Linked DNA regions of Homo sapiens: region 2 is linked to region 1. The links come from fine-mapping of genetic effects on gene expression. Tissue or cell type: fibroblasts. Region 1 holds a variant in brackets; the other region holds the start of a gene. All regions are shown on one strand. Distances are between the middles of the regions.

Evidence for each region. PIP is the estimated chance that this variant, and not a neighbour inherited with it, causes the effect.
Region 2: PIK3CD starts here. The variant in region 1 is fine-mapped to the expression of PIK3CD in fibroblasts (GTEx, PIP above 0.99). The same link has a PIP of 0.9 or more in sigmoid colon.

What each region holds. Positions count from the first base shown.
Region 1 is chr1:9,685,907-9,694,081 of GRCh38, forward strand. PIK3CD (phosphatidylinositol-4,5-bisphosphate 3-kinase catalytic subunit delta) reads left to right here. Exons shown (of 24, transcript NM_005026.5): 2 at 5,561-5,665. PIK3CD-AS2 (PIK3CD antisense RNA 2) reads right to left here and starts at 1,668. Exons shown (of 2, transcript NR_126367.1): 1 at 1,429-1,668. RefSeq lists enhancers at 1,423-1,592, 3,713-4,396, 4,397-5,078 and silencers at 1,643-1,782, 2,108-2,302, 3,309-3,868. The variant T/G (reference allele first, on the strand shown) is at 3,971.
Region 2 is chr1:9,647,301-9,655,475 of GRCh38, forward strand. It overlaps PIK3CD (phosphatidylinositol-4,5-bisphosphate 3-kinase catalytic subunit delta), which reads left to right and starts at 4,431. Exons shown (of 24, transcript NM_005026.5): 1 at 4,431-4,502. It overlaps PIK3CD-AS1 (PIK3CD antisense RNA 1), which reads right to left and starts at 7,286. Exons shown (of 2, transcript NR_027045.1): 1 at 6,898-7,286; 2 at 5,310-6,743. RefSeq lists a silencer at 4,344-5,233 and enhancers at 5,414-5,483, 6,624-6,673.

The sequences.
Region 1 (8,175 bases):
AGCAGTGGTGTCTTACCTGACCACACCTAGAAATGCTGAATGCCAATTTGAGTTAGAAAGAGAATAGCAGAATTCCAGCCAGGTTGGAGGCTAGGATATTGGTGAGCATTTGGGAGAAGCTGAGATTTCATCACAGCAAAAGTGTGATGAAATCACACATCACAAAGTGTCAGGAGAGGGAGAAGTGACTGATGCAGCAAATACTCTTCCATCTTCTAGGGCTCCTTGAAGGGAACAAGGGCTCCAATGAGTGGGAGCAGAGGCTCATTTGGTTTCCTGCCTTATGTTTTGGGATTTAACAAGAGGATTGGCCCTTTTAGTAGCAAGTAGAGGAGCAGGAATCTAATTTCTTGGCTCCATCATAGCTCACCGCAGACTTCTGGGCCAAGCAATCCTTCTCCCTTGGCCTCCTAAGTAGCTAGGACTACAGGCAAATGCCACCATGCCAGGCTAATTTTCTTTTTTTTTTTTTTTTAGTAGAGACGAGGTCTCACTGTTTTGCCCAGGTTGTTCTTAAACTCCTGGCCTTAAATGATCCTCCCACCTCGGCCTCGCAAAGTGCTGAGATTACAGGCGTGAGCCACCGTGCCCGCCTTAATTTACTCTGATTTTTCTTTTCTTTTTAAAATAGAGACGGGGGTCTCACTGTGTGGCCCAGGCTGGTCTTGAACTCCTGGGCTCAAGTGATCCTCCTGCCCTGGCCTCCCAAAGTGCTGGGACTACAGGCGTGAGCCACTGTGCCAGGTCTACTCTGATATTTAACAGTGGTAAAATTCATTTATCCACTAAATGACTTTATTTATACTCTCACTTAATTTCAGAAAGGACTGAAGGTACCTGAGCTGTGAACAAAGAATCAGAGACTGGTTTTTCCTCCATCTCTGCCACTAACTAGTTGTGCCACCTGGGGCAAGTCACTTGGTCTCCTTGTGTCTGTTATCCATGTGTGAGAGCCAATACTTAATATGAGTGCCAGGCACTGTTCTAGAGATTTTCCATGCATCTGTATTCACTCTTTTAATTCTTCTCTACACAATTTATTAAGGTCTCTATCTTTTTAGAGTTTGTCAGGGCAGTTCCAGTTCATCGTGGCAATACAAGAAAGTCACTTTTGGGGGCTTTTGCCATTTCAAAGAATCTTGGATTTTTCTCTGGGCTCCAGAGACACCCGTGCCTGACACCCCCAATTTGAACCCCCAGCGGATCATTGGGTTCCATTGCTGATGGGGACCTTGTGTTTGAGCTTGACTTTCCCTCCATCCATGCTGGAGATAAACGGAAGTCTTCGCGCAGGGGGACGATTGCAGGACGGGGCCGCTAGGGAGGAGGGCTCCCACACGTGGGGAATGGGGGTGGAGGAACCGCTGAAGCTCGTCTGCCCTTTGGAAAATCTCGTTGGTGTCCTAGCCCTGGGATCATTGTACTTACCAGGTTGGGGGGCTCTGCACCCAGAACTCCTCCCAGCCTCTGTCTGCCCGTCCAAGGTCCGGCGTGACTTCCGGTGGCTGATTTCTCATCTTGGGGAAATCCCCGCCCTGGGGGGGTCCGGTGTGGCCTGCAGGGAGCCTGACTCACCCGTCGGCTGAGTCAGGGGGTCCCAGCTGCCCTCGGATGTCTGCTGCACCGCTCCCCTCCCTCAGGCGGGGGACGGCAGGAAGGAGGGAGAGATGGGAGGGCGTGGGGGCGGGGCCGGGGGCGGTCTCCAGCCCCCGGCCCGGGCTCCGCCCTCTCCCGGGATCTGTGAAAGCACAGCCAGGGTGCGGGCGGGTGAGTGCCCACCTGGTGCAGGGTGTGAAGAGCGAGAGCGCGTGTATGAGCACGAGCGTCTGTGGTCTCTGTGTGTCCGTTTACATGATTGCGCCTGTGTCTGTGTGTGCGCATCTGCATGCGTGTCTTTTTGAGTGAATGTCTGTGTGTGACTTCTAGGGACGGCCAGGGAAGAGGAGTGTCCCCTCCCACCCTGGCCCCCCGTCTTCTCATCCTGGACTCCCTCTCTTCTCTCTCCTCCTTGGGGGGTGCTCTGGGCATCCGGGACCCCTGGCAAGGCTGCCGGGTGCTGGGAGGACGCAGAGGCCGCCGAGGGCGGAGGGAAGCGTCAGGCCTGGCTGCGCGCGCCCTGGCTAGGGAGCTCCGAGTCCCGGCCGCCTGGTCCTTTCATTCTGGGCTTCTTCGAGATTCTCGAGGGCTTCCAGCCGGCAGTGTTTTCTCCTTGCCGTCTTCTCAGGCACGAGGAAGGCTCCTGGAGCTCATCTGCCTGGGATGGGCGGCCCTGCCTTGACCTCACGTGCAGCAATTAGGACCACCAAGGAGTGTTCTTCAAACCACCTTCTACCACCCCGCGGGACACGCCAGGGCTGATTCTGGTGCTCGCACCCCGCTTCCTCCTCTGCGTTCCCCTGTGGCAAAGGTTTGTCTTGGGCTGTGGACCCGAAAGAATATTCTAAGGGGAGATGGGCTCTTGCAGAGCAAGAGGGGTATGGTTTCAGCACCAAACTAAACTGGTGCCAGCGCTAGCTCTGCCCAAGAGGCTGTGCAGACAGTGTTTGTGTGAGTACGTGAGGGTGAGAGTCCCTGCCCGCCTAGCTTCGGCTTCCCCACTTACAACCAAGGGAGAACAACATCTATCTTACAGTGTAGATGCCTGGATAAAAACTGGAGCGCCTGGCCGAGCACTTTGGGAGGCTGACGCGGTAGGATGGCTTGAGCCCAGGAGTTCGAGACCAGCGTAGGCAACATAGTTAGACCCCCGCCTCTACAAAAAATTTTAAAAAATTAGCTGAGTGAGGTGGTGCGCACTTGAGGTCTCAGCTACACGGGAGGCTGGGGTGAGAGGATCGATTGAGCCAGAGAGGTAGAGGCTACAGTGAGCTATGATCGCACCACTGCACCCCAGCCAGGGCAACAGAGCAAGACCCTGTCTCAAAAACAAAAACACTGGAGCGCCCAGAGTTTTTTTTAAGTGCGGGACAAGGATTGTCTCGGTGTTGTTACTGCACGCACACCGCCCGTTGTAATGGATAGATGCATTAGTGAAAGTGCTAGGTACACTCATTTATTTTCTAAATCTCACATATAAGGGAACCCCCGATGGAAAGGCCCATCAGCTAGGGAACAGCCAGCAGGCTGGATTTGAGCCCAGAGCCCGGGCTGGCCAATTACTCGAGTGAGTCTGGCTCCGGCTCTGTGACCTGGGTCCAGTACCCCGCCCTTTCTGCGGATGCCTTGCAAAGCGGGGAGCGGAAAGCAGTTTGGTGGACGACCAGCCCTCCCTTGCTTTGCAGGTGGCGCTTTCTATTTATTGATTGTAAGGTGAAACCTAGGCCAGAGCCAGCGTGCGCGCGCCGTCGGGGTCCCGCGGCTGCTCTGGGGCTCAGGGTGCGAACCCCAAGGGCCCCGCCTGGCAGCGTCCTGGGCCTCCGGGCGAGAACAGCGGGGGTCGGGGAGGATTTGCAGCGTCCACTCCTCTCTCCGCCGCCCGTGTGAGCTCGGGCGCTTCTCCCGGCTGGGGGTGTGAGAATTTGCCGACGGTGCCCGCGCCGCCGCCGGCCCCGGCCCCGCCCCAGCCCCGAGGACGCCCCGCCCCCAGCCGGCGCCCCGCCCCGCCTGCCAGTAGTCCCAGCCCCGCCCCGGGCCGCGCCCCTCCGCCGAGCCCCGCTTGCCTGCACCTCGCGCGGCGGGCCTGCCCTCCGGCCCCCGCCGGCCCCGCGCCGCTGCCCGGAGGCTGGCGTCTTCCCGTCACTCCGGGACCCGCCCGCTGTGTCCCCTGGGCAACTGTCTCCAGGGAGATCGGGCCCCGCCCCCGGCAGCGACACCCGGTACGGAGCCCACCTGTGCGGGCGTCTGCGGGGTCCCCGTGCCCCGCCCCCAGCCCCGCCGGGCGTCCCACCCCGCCCAGCCCCGGGCTTTGTCCGCCTGGGGCGGGGTGGGCAGGGTCGGTGGAGGCGATCAGGGGTCCGGGGCCGTGGGGGCT[T/G]GGGGGGCCGAGGCAGGGGGTTGCGTTCGCGGTGGGATTCTCAGCTATGGGCCGCGCGACGCTCTCCTCTCCTAATCTGGTTGCTTCCTTTTGTGCCCCCCGGGGGTCAGGAATCCCAGGTTTCTCCGCTGCCGCCCTTGATGGGATCCGTGAGGCCTCCAGCGGGCTTCGCACGAGGACGCGCCTGTTCGGGGCAGGCTGTTTACTTGTCGGGGACCCAGCAGTGGCTGTGCGCGTCCTCCCCTCCCCCTGCCCCCTATTCGGGACGGAGCCTCCTGCGCTCTGTCCCTCCCGAGCTGTGCCCTTGAGCCCAAGGGGGCTAGAGGGTGGCAGACCCAGATCCTGAGGTCCTGCGGCTTCCTCCCCGGGGGAGCGCCTTCTCCCTGGCCGCCCTCTTGTGGATTTTGTCCTGGCTCCTTATTTCCTGACCCGAATTCCTGAGGATGAATTCTCTCCTTCTCTTCCTTCTCGGCTCCCTCTGCTTTTGGCTTTGTTTTTCCTGTTTTGAAAGGGCTTTCCTTATGATCCTGTCTCATTTCCCTGTGCCAGAGCTACTATAATTTGTCGTGGTAACGGGTATTGGCCAGTCACTTAATTGGTCAGCAATGGAAGGGATTTCTTCCTTAGCCTTTGGTGCTGACCTCCTGTTTCTCTGGTGGCAGTGCCTTGCGAAGTGCTTGCCACTGTCCCCTGGATTTTGAGGGAAGGGAGCATCCGAGCCCGCATGCCTGGGCTCCCGCAGCAGGGTCCCCGGAGCATCTTTGCAGGGATAGAGGCCGCAGGGAGGACTCCAGCTTGGTCCTTGGGAGATGTGTTCCTGCAACCCATGCCTTTTCCAGCGGGTTCCTAGGGCTCTGCTGTTTGACTCATGGAGAAGCCGGTGGTTTTGGTGTTGTGCTAAATCGAAGCCCACCTAGTGGGCTCTGGGCCGAAGGCTCCCAGCTGTGGAGGTAGCTATGCCCAGGGCCTGGGGTTGGGAGAAGGGGTTGGGTCTTTAGACTGGGCTGGAGCTCTAGTGTCTTTTTTCCCTCTTTGGGGTTCTGTTATTTCCTGGAGCGGCTGAGGTGGGGGAAGAAGCACCACAGATGCAAGGAGTGGGCGGCCCCTCCCCTCACACTCTTCCTTTTTATCTCCAGCCCAATAGGGCATGAATTTTCCTTTAGACCTGGGCCTTGAAAACAGATCCACATGGGGAATAAAGATTTCAAGTTCACCAACCTGCTTTTTGCATCCATCGAATGGAACTCGAACCCAGGCTTGGCTCAGATCAATTACTTTGCTTTCAAAAAACCAAACAAAACCAACAAACAGCTCTAAAAACGATCTGAGTCATCTGAGTGCACATTCCTGCTCCAGGCACTGGAAATGCTCCTGTGGTTGGTTTCAGTACCACCAAAGGGAGCTGGGGGTGGCATTGACGCAGATGGCAAGAAAGGCCGATCAAGTGGAATGTGATTGGTTTGCAAAAAGGAGAGACCTAGATGAAGCAGTTGATTTTGAGCTAACGTCCTGTAAGAGAATGCACAGGTTTCTGAAATTCTCTCTTGTTAAAATAGTTTTCTTTCTTTCTTTCTTTCTTTTCCCCAACAGATAAGGAGTCAGGCCAGGGCGGGATGACACTCATTGATTCTAAAGCATCTTTAATCTGCCAGGCGGAGGGGGCTTTGCTGGTCTTTCTTGGACTATTCCAGAGAGGTAGGTTGGGGGAACGGGCCAAGTGTGTGGGGGAAGGGAAAGGAGATGTTATTTTGTAGATAGGTTAAGAATGTGAACAAACCCATCCTCCCCGACTCTCCAGCCAAAGGAAGACTTCTCTGTAGGACTAGCACACCCAGAGGAAGAGAGTGACCCAAATTGGTGCTAGGAGCGAATGAATGGGGAAGTGAACTAGACCTCAGCCATTCCCAGGAGAGAGATGCTGCTGCCTGGGAAAAGAAGGAATGGCTTTGCTTTGAGGAGTCCTGGAGCCCATTACTAAGCTGCAGCATTTGGTATTTGACTCACACTGGCCACGGTAGCGTTGGACTCGCCTGACTGGGGAGAGAAATATTAAAAGTTTTCTGGAGGAAATGGATTGAATTTTTATAATTCAGTGTTGCTTCTCAAGGAGTCCCTAGGTGGGGCCGTTCTGTGTCTTCAGAGAGCTGGCAGTCACTGTCTCAGTAAGAGGATGCTCTTCAGAGTTTCTAGGACATTAGCTTAGAAGATGAATGCAGTCCTTTCATGGTGCAAATGAGGACACTGAGGCCAGAGACCGACACTGGCTGGACGTTGGCTACCACACCCATCTGGGGGCCTGGAATAGCTGGGTCTGGCTTGGGAGCTCCATGACTGCGAGACCTGCCGGTCCCCTTGCAAGCTCTCTGGGTGCATAACATATTCTGTGTGTACCCAGAATTCCACTGGAGACGCTACTGTCATTTCAGGATGGAAAGGGGCAGGGGTTAGAGCGCGGTGGCGTCCTTAAAGGCTTTTTCCCCAACCTCAGCCTCATTTTCTCTAGATCTTCATTGGTACTTTCCAAACTTGTTTGATGATTGCGGATCTCTTTTTAAAAATCAAAATATAGGCCGGGTGCCGTGGCTCATGCCTGTAATCCTAGCACTTTGGGAGGCCAAGGTGGGCGAATCACGAGGTCAGGAGTTCGAGACCAGCCTGGCCAACCAACATGGTGAAACCCTGTCTCTACTAAAAATACAAAAAATTAGCTGGGCGTAGTGGTGGGCACCTGTAATCCCAGCTACTCGAGAGGCTGAGGCAGGAGAATCACTTGAACCCAGGAGGCGGAGGTTGCAGTGAGCCGAGATCACACCACTGCACTCCAGCCTGGGTGACAGAGTGAGACTCCGTCTCAAAAAAATAAATAAATAAAATAAATCAAAATATAAAGCAGAATTTTAACCTATAAACCAGATCAAAACAGCCACTGTAAGAGAAACTAGCCCAGAACTCCTTCTGCTCAGCACCCTGTCCCACTCCCACCTACCTCTGAAGGCCTGGGGTGCTTCTTTGGAACCCCAGCGCTCCCCTGCACATAAGCAAAAGCCATAGATCATGTAGACCCCTGTTGGAGGATTAGAATTTCTTCCACACATCTATTTATACTGACTTGATCTTTGTCTCAGAAAATGCCTTTTAATAATATTTTTAATCCTCATGCTTTTTTATTTATAAAAATAGGAAATTAGTGTCAAGTTTGGAAAATACCAAAAACATACAAGCATACTCGTCTATCATCTTACCGCCACCCCACCCCGCACCAGAGAAAACCACTGTTTCCTCGTTGGAGTATCCTCCCCCAAACCCCTCAGAGAGAATTCTGTCTGTAGCTTTTATTTATTATTTATTTATTTACTTAATTTTTTTGAGATGGAGTCTTGCTCTGTCACCCAGGCTGGAGTGCAGTGATGCAATCTCAGCTCACTGCCACCTCCGCCTCCCGGGTTCAAGCGATTCTTCTGCCTCAGCCTCCCAAGTAGCTGGGACTACAGGTGTGCGCCACCATGCCCAGCTAATTTTTGTGGTTTTTTTTTTTCAGTAGAGACATGGTTTTGCCATGTTGGCCAGGCTGGTCTCGAACTCCTGACCTCAAGGGATCCACCTGCCTCAGCCTCCCAAAGAGCTGGGATTACAGGCGTCAGCCTCCACGCCCTGACCTGTGTCTGCACCTTTTAAAACTTGACTTTTATTTATTAGTAAGTATTATTATAGACTTTGACATAAACATAACAATCGAACATATATGTATTTCTCTGCTCTGTTTCAAAATCCCACTAAAATGAAAGTAAAGGAATAAGAAAAAATGTAAATTCTTAAAAAAAAAAAACTAGAAAAGTAAATGGTTGAGGAGGGTGGTATGAACAAAACCTTTGCAGGACAGGAAACCGATAGGCGAGAGGGAAGCTGAGTGGAGAATGTCCAATGTCTTGGGCCATGGGGGAGGCAGGTGGAAAAGGCAAAGGAATGGGGGCTCTGGGGATGGAGTGCTTCGAAAGGTGGTGTGTGCAGGGTGGGCTGGAAGCAGGAAGATTACTTGAAAGAGCATGGTAGGGTGACAGACCACCCCCCCAGGCCACATAGCCAGATGGTTCCCTTCCCCACCCCAGCAGGTGGCAGGTTTCCGGCAGGCAGTGTTTTCAGAGAGGTTGGCCCAGCCCAGGGCAGCAGAGGCACTGCATGGAGAACGAAAGGGTCAAGCGAGTTAG
Region 2 (8,175 bases), 39 kb before region 1:
GGAGGGTCACTTGGGCCTGGGAGACAGAGGTTGCAGTGAGTTGAGACTGCACCACCGCACTCCAGCCTGAGTGACAGAGTGAGACCCTGTCTCAAAATAATAATAAAACAATAATCATCTTTTAAAAGTTAAGATTACAACAAATCTAGTTTACAGATCTTAACTTTTATTCATGATTCTAATTATTATTATTATTATTATTATTATTATTATTATTATTAGAGACGTGGTCTCACTTTGTCACCCAGGCTGGATTGCAGAGGTGAGATCACAGCTCACTGCAACCTTGAATTTCTGGGCTCAAGGGATCCTCCTTCTACCTCAGCCTCCCAAGTAGCTAAAACTACAGGCACATGCCACCATGCCTGGCTAATGTTTTATTTTTTGTAAAGATGAGGTCTCACTATGTTGCTCAGGCTGGTCTTGATCCTCTAGCCCCAGCCTCCCAAAGTGTTGGAATTCCAGGTGTGAGTCATCCTGGCCTACTAATGAGTCTAAAATTGGGAGTCCCTCAGAACCAGGACAGGTTCAAAGGGCTTCAGCCAGTAACACAGTCAGAGTGTTTATGGATGTAAAACAGAAGTAAGCTATAGAGCTTAATTGGTTACAGTGTTTGCTTTGTTTGAATCAGTTGGCCACCTAAGATCTACTAAAGCTCAGCTGCTATAACTGACAAAAACTCAGCTATTTGCTACATGTATATACTCTTAAGTTAATTAGTTTCATTTACCATGAATGACTCCATATTGGTTTGGTCTGTTGGACCCGGTACAGGGGTCTTGTCCCAATCAATGGCCTCCTGCAAATTTTATTTAACAGGCAGAAAAGGGGAGATGATAGAAAGATCTCTTCATCTGCCTGCTGCTTCTTAATTGCCTTAAGTTCAAAAATATTTACGTCAAAGAGGTATATTTTGGGGGGACATATTCTGGTTTCCTTCATGGGGATCAAAGAGAACAATATGTAAGGCACATCTTAGCGCTTGACAACTTGGCATGCCTCCATTCTCCCGGCAGCATCTTGCATAGTAAAAAGCATGATTTGAATTGCTGTCAGCAAATACATATTCAATGAAGAATTCCTTTGGAAGATGCAAAACCATTCGTCATCTGGCTGTTTCTTGAAACAAACTCTAAAGACCAGAGGGCAGCGTTGAAAGTGCAGCCTAGCAAAAGCATGGTTAAGGCCAGGTGTTAGGAAACCTTAGGACGGGCCGCTCCCTCAGGACAGGCTGCTCACTCGGCCGTCAGAGTTCCTTCTGAAACGTCCATTTGTCTTCTGGCTCTTGGCATCCTTGAAACAGGCTAGAGACCGCTGCTAAGGCTCAGTAATCTGAGCCTGGGGTAAGCAAGAGGCTGTGAGCCTCAGACACTCCACTAGAAAGGATATACTAGTGTGCATTCCTGGGGACAGGCCCAACGTTCCTTCCAAAAGGGACCTGTGGTCCTTCCTGGCTCCTCTGCAAGTGTCCACTGGAGAACACAGAATCTGCAGCCTGCATCTTAGAAAACCTGGACCAGGCCGGGCGCAGTGGCTTATGCCTGTAATCCCAGCACTTTGGGAGGCTGAGGCGGGCAGATCACCCGAGGCCTGAGTGTGAGACCAGCCTGGCCAACATGGTGAAACCTCGTCTCTACTAAAAAATACAAAAATTAACCAGCCATGGTGGCACGCATCTGCAGTCCCAGCTACTTGGGAGGCTGAGGCATGAGAGTCGCTTGAACCCGGGAGGCCAAGGTGGCAGTGAGCCAAGATCATGCCACTGCACTCCAGCCTGGGTGACAGAGCAAGACCCTGTCTCAACAAACAAACAAACAAACAAAAAAAGCAAAAACAAAAAAAACTGGAACAATTGAGCAAGCCACTCCATCTTACCCAAGCCCTCTCCCCTTTCCTGGCTGGAATAACGGCCTCTGGGCCTCTCTCTCGCTCTTTTTCTTTTTTTTTCAAAGCAGAATCTCACTCCATCACCCAGGCTGGAGTGCAGTGGCACAGTTATGGCTCACTGCAGTCTCAACCTCCAGGGCTCAGGTGATCCTCCCACCTCAGCCTCCCGAGAATCTGGAACTACAGGTGCACACCACTAAACCCGGCTAATTTTTTCTATTTTTTTGTAGAGACTGGGTTTTGCCATATCACCCAGGCTGGTCTCAAACTCCTGGCCTCAAGGGATCCTCCAGCCTCGTCCTCCCAAAGTGCTGGGACTACAGGCCTGAGCCATCATGCCTGGCCTGGGCCTCTGCTTATTGCAGCCTCTGGAGCCAGCACGGGGCCCAAGGTGGTCCTGAGAGGCCCAGGCATCTCTTGGGTAGAAAAAGTCCTTCTCTAAGCCTCAGATCCCTCATCTGTCCAAGGGACCAATAACAGCTGCTTTACTTCCCAGGCTGGATTGAAGAGGGTCCTTTAAGCCATTGTTTCACTAAGCAATTGACTGGCTCACCCTTCACCCTATCCTGGGAGGGCATGAAGCCACTGTTGTAATCTCAGGGGTGGGCTCACCCACCACCCCCATACTCTTGGTCCACCAAAGCCTGGAGGTCGCTGCTGTCAACCCAGGGCTGAGCAAGGAGGGACTTAGGCCCTGGGCTGTCTCCCCGAGCCTCTCAGTCATGCCTGCTGTAGGGGAGGAGAGAGTGGCCTCCCTCTACCCTCTAAATTCCTTGGCTGGGCTCCACATTAAATTTACATAAGGCAGATTAACAAGAGAAAAACCATGTGTAACTAAGACCTATGCATGGGAATCCCACAAAATACAAGACTGGATGAAGGCTCAGATGAATAAAGCTCATATAACATCCTACAAGGGACAGGAAACATTCCTTCAGAAAGGAATAGGGCTTGGGTCAGGTGTGGTGGTTCACGCCTGTAATCCCAGCACTTTGGGAGCCTGAGGCGGGTGGATCATGAGGTCAGGAGTTCAAGACCAGCCTGGTGAACATGGCGAAACCCCACCTCTACTAAAAATACAAAAATTAGCCAGGCACGGTGGTGTGCACCTATAGTCCCAGCTACTCAGGAGGCTGAGGCAGGAGAATTGCTTGAACCCAGGAGGCTGAGGCTGTGGTGAGCCAAGATCACGCCACTGCACTCCAGCCTGGGCAACAGAACAAGATTCCTCAAAATAAACAAAACAAAGAAACAAAACAACAAAAAACAAACAAAAAAACATGAAAATCAGCTGGGTGTCGTGGCGTGTGCCTGTAATCCCAGCTACTTGGGAGGCTGAGGTAGGAGAATTGCTTGAACCCAGGATGCAGAGATTGCAGTGAGCCGAGATGGCACCACTGCATTCCAGCCTGGACAACAGAGCAAGACTGTCTCAAAAAAAAGAAAAGAAAAAAGAAAAAGAAAGAAAAGAAAAGAAAAAAAGGAATAGAGGCTTGGGATCCTGGGGAGGTGGTACACAAGTTAAGGGAGAGTGAGGGGAGAGAGGGTAAGGTGAATGAAGCTTGTCTTCTTATGCGGATAAAATTTCTCAGGTAAGAAAAGTTAGCTCTGAGCAGCCCTCCGCCTGATACTAATACTTTACCAATGGAGATTTTCCTTTTCTTTTCTGTTTTTGAGACAGGGTCTCACTTTGTTTCCCAGGCTGGAGTGCAGTGGTGCCATCATGGATCACTGCAGCCTCCATTTCCCTGGCTCAAGCCATCCTCCCACCTCAGCCTCCCGAGTAGCTGGGACTACAAGGTGTGCACCACCACGACTGGCTAATTTTTAATTTTTTTGTAGAGACGGGGGTTTCCCTATGTTGCCCAGGCTGGCTTGAATTCCTGGGCTCAAGTGATCCTCCCGCCTCGGCCTCCCAAATTGCTGGGATTGCAGGAGTGAGCCACAGTGCCAGGCCTGGAGATTTTCTTTATAGATAGAAATCATTTTACAAAAGGACAGCTTTTCAGATCTACTCCTGTGCCTGCAGTTTCTAAGAATAATCCCTTCAAAATATGGCGAAGAAGTATATTTTGGGGTGGCACACGCTGGTCTCCCATAGTCACATTTTGGGTGTGTGTCCTGAGCCCCAACACTGGTCACCTCGCAATGGCGCTTGGGGTCCCTGGGTGCCTAGAGCTGCAGGTTACCCCCTCTTCTTCTCCTGCTCTCAGCCTTTCTCCCGCTCCTGCTGAAATTCTTTCCTGCGTGAAGGCGGAGCGCTTAAAGGCGCCTAGGACCTTTATTTCGTTGTTTTCCTTTGCATAAAAAGAAAACTTGTTTTGTAGAAGGGCAAGCAAGGTGCAGCTTCCAGAGGCACCTGGGATGATGCCCCTCTAGCGGTAGGCGAACTGGGGAGTGTGGGCGGCGGGGGAAGGCGAGGCCCTGGAGGACCTGTTGTTTTTCCTGTTGCAAGTGAAAAGGAAACAAAGTGGGAAGTGGAGTGTGCGGGTTGGCGGCAGGCGGGGCGCCCCGGCGCGCCCCGCCTCCCTCCCTCGAGGCTCACTCGCGCCCAGCGCAGTCGCTCCGAGCGGCCGCGAGCAGAGCCGCCCAGCCCTGCCAGCTGCGCCGGGACGGTAAGCGATCGCCGCTGGCTGCGTCAGGGGAGGTGGGAAGAGGACCGCGGCCAGGGGCTTTGGGAGCTGCGGCTGCGCTCGGGGGCGCGGGGCTGGCTGGCGGGCGTCTCTCCGGCACACACAGCCCGTGCGCCCTGGCCCTGGGCGCCTCCCCGAGTCTAGCGAGCCGGGTCCTGGGAGCCCCGGGGGCCGGGCTGCTGGGACCTGGGCGGGGGCTGCCCTAGAGGCCCGGGGCCGTCCCCCGTGGGCCCGCCGAGAGGGGCGTGCGCAGCTCCCCGGCGCCTGCACTGCGCGCCTTGCCCGCCTGGCCCGGCAGCGGGGTTTCAGCTGCGCTCACAGCGGCGGTGCGGCCTCCGGTGCGCCGGCTGAGGCGCGAGGATACTGGAAGCGCTCAGCGCGTGCGCCCGCTCCGAGCGCTGACTAGAGGACCAGGGGCCTCCTCTGTACGGCAGCGGGGTCCACAGAGAGCGCGCTGGTGATGTCGCCCGAGTGCCCTGGCGCGGAGAGAGGGCTGCGCACAGTTCGCCGGCGCCCGGGTCCTGTGCGCCCTTCCCAGCCTGGGCAAGTGGGGAGCGGGGCTGCAGAGGGGCCGGGGTGGAAGTTTTCGGGGCTTCCTCCCGGCTCGTGGACCCGCGCCCCGCCTCCCAGTCCCGGGCCTCCCGCGTTGCTCGCCGCGTTTGCTGCAGCGGCGCAGGCGAGATCAGCTCCGGATCTGCGGCCGAGCCGGGGTTACGCCGGCAAAACCGCCCCCAGCTTTGCATTTCCGGACTTTTTAAAAAAATACTCTTACCCGTAATTCAGCCTGAATGAGGCTTTTTAAAAAAATCGAGTTTCCTGTTTTTATTTAGGCTTCCTCATTTGCACCTCCTCCTTTGAGGTAGAGAAGAGGGGAACTGGGACGACCTTTCGTGGGCACCAGGATGGGGGCGTTGCAGGGCGGGGAGACGGGGGTCCAGAGAACCGGGGAAGGGCCGCTGGGAGGTCCCGAAAAGTGCGCTGTGGGTGGGGCGAGGGTGAAGCAGGTAGGGGCGAGATTTCCGGGGTCGCGGGTGGGGGGCGCCCTGGAGCGGCCAAGGTGCAGGGTCCTCGCGTGGCACCCTTGGGATCTGCCCAGTTTGCGGATGGAGCGCGGGGCTGATCGGGCAGGTCTCACTTGTGCAGGTGTTCCCTGGAAGGTGGGACCTGCAGATCTTGAACCCCACCAGACTCCATCAAGGGGGCTTCTTCCCGCCGATTCCTGAGAAGTCCTACCTCTGAGATGCTGGGCACAGCCGCACGTGGATGTGGGCGGGTGTGCCGTGGGTTGGAGTGGGAAGGGGCAATTATTCCTCTCTCAGGGCTCTCGGAGGGGAAGGTTTACTGCTCCCTAGGGACTTTGAAACCAAGGGCTAACCCCCTGCTCTCTTCCAGGAGAGTGGGATACCGCCCGGGTGCCTGACGGTGCCTTGGTGTTCTTGACAATTGAATGGTACCATCGGGACATTACTCCCCAAAGAACTGGTCGTTCTTACCTAGGTGATTTCAGCTGGACAACTGTAGGAGCTGAGTGGTGTTGTCTTCATTTTACAGTTAAGGAAACGAAGGCTCAGAAAAGTTAAATAACTCACCAACCCACACAGTTTACAAGTAGTTTCTCCAGGATCCCAGCTCTTTCCGACGCCAGCGCGTTTAATCATCTGGGGGTGCCGTTGCTTGCGGGGGAAGGAGAATGTCCTAGTAATTCTCTTGGGGGGGATTTGGAGGGGACGACTGTTCAGAGAGGCACCCTCTAAGATACCCTTGAGACTCCTCTGTAACACCCGCTGCTGCTGTTCACACCCCCTCCCCAATTTGATTGATGTGTTGAGTGGGGCGGAAGGTTCTTTTGGTTGATGAGGCTGCGACCAAACGCAAGGAGATATAAATAGAGCTTTCTCTTTGGCTCTCTCTAGAGCAGAAATGCCAACCCCTTAGCATTTCCATGGCCTGCTGGAGTTTCATTTCTTGATATTAGGATTCCAGCCATCTTGGCTGGTGAGAGGCCTGCTGGCGGCTTCCTGGGCTTGGTCCTCTTTTGGTGCTTTCACAGAATGATGGAAGACACTGGAGTGGGCTGGAGGAGTGCTCTTAAAACCCAGTTGTGGCTGAGAGCGGTAGCTCATACCTGTCATCCCAGTGCTTTGGGAGGCCCAGACGGGAGGATCACTTGAAGCCAGGAGTTCAAGGTTGCAGTAAGCTATTACAGTGCCACTGCGCTCCAGCCTGGGTGACAGAGCAAGAGCCCATCTCTGAGAAACATAATACAACAACCCAGTTGCCTGCTCCAGAGACAACTAAGCTAGCCTCCTTCTGAGCCCCACTTCCCCCGCCCTTCAGCCCCTGTTCAGAAACAGACTACATTGGCCACACTACTCACTTAGATGTTTCTGGAATTAGGGCACGTGCCCCAGAGGTACTCCCGACCACGCAGATGTCCCCTTCTGGCAGGAAAAGCGCGTTTCTGCGTTTCTGCAGCCTCAGTCCACGCCGCCAGGTCTTTGCACTAAGCTGTGGGCTCCGTTTCTCCTCCGATACCATGTTTAGCAAGTGTTTCCTGAGATCACACGGGGTGCCAGGGGCTGTGCTAAGAACAGGGCAGGCAGACTGGGAGGGCATCAGCCCCTGGGGGGCTTACAGGACAGACAGTCCACCAATGGTTGTGCGAAAGCCAGCCCGCTTTCGCACAACTGTCCGATGGAATTCATGGAGGTGGGAGTGGGGATGGTGAGAGTCGGTTCCTGCTTCATCTTGTTTTACTTAAATTGCACAGTGAAAGGGAGAAGTGAATGTGCAACGGATGAAGCAATTCCCCTTTGGCTGGGTTATTTTCAAAACCATTTTTGTGTAGAGAGCAGTTCCCGCCCTCCCTGAGGCCAGCTGCCGGTGTGGGCCTGATGGTGGGGTTTGGGGCCCCAGCAAATGTTTCCTTAACGTGGGACCTTCAGAAGGCTCTTTCAGGCTGGGCGCGGTGGCTCACGCCTGTAATTCCAGCACTTTGGGAGGCCGAGGTGGGCGGATCACTTGAGGTCAGGAGTTCAAGACCATCTTGGCCAACATGGTGAATATCTGTCTCTACGAAAAATGCAAAAAAAAAAAATTAGCTGGGCGTGGTGATGAGCACCTGTAATCCCAGCTACTTGGGAGGTGGAGGCAGGAGAATCGCTTCAATCCGGGAGGTGGAGGTTGCAGTGTGCTGAGATTGTGCCACTGCACTCCAGCCTGGGCAACAGAGTGAGACTACATTTCAAAAAAAAAAAAAAGAAAAAAAAGCTCTTTCAGCCAGGAGGGTGGCTTCAGCTACTCCCCAGGGGACAAGTGTGTTTTTCAGCAAAGCTGTTAGAGAAGATGGTCTAGAAGCAGTACCCCGGGATGGAGGAGACAAGGAAGGGCCCTATCCACTGGAGGATGGCAGAGCCTGGCTTGTTTGAAAGGGAGGAAAATATTGTCATCTTGGTACCGGTGACAGTGTTTCATAAATAGCGAAGGTGGCAAAACGCCACCTCTCTCCCTACAGTTAACGCTAAGACTGAGTTGTCTTTAGTTTGGTTGGTGGAAATCCCCGGCAATCATAGCAGAAATGCTGCCAGTTTCAAGATGGAAAAAATAAAAAACCCAGGAACCCCCCGCCCCCCCCCCTTTTTTATTGCAGCTAAAC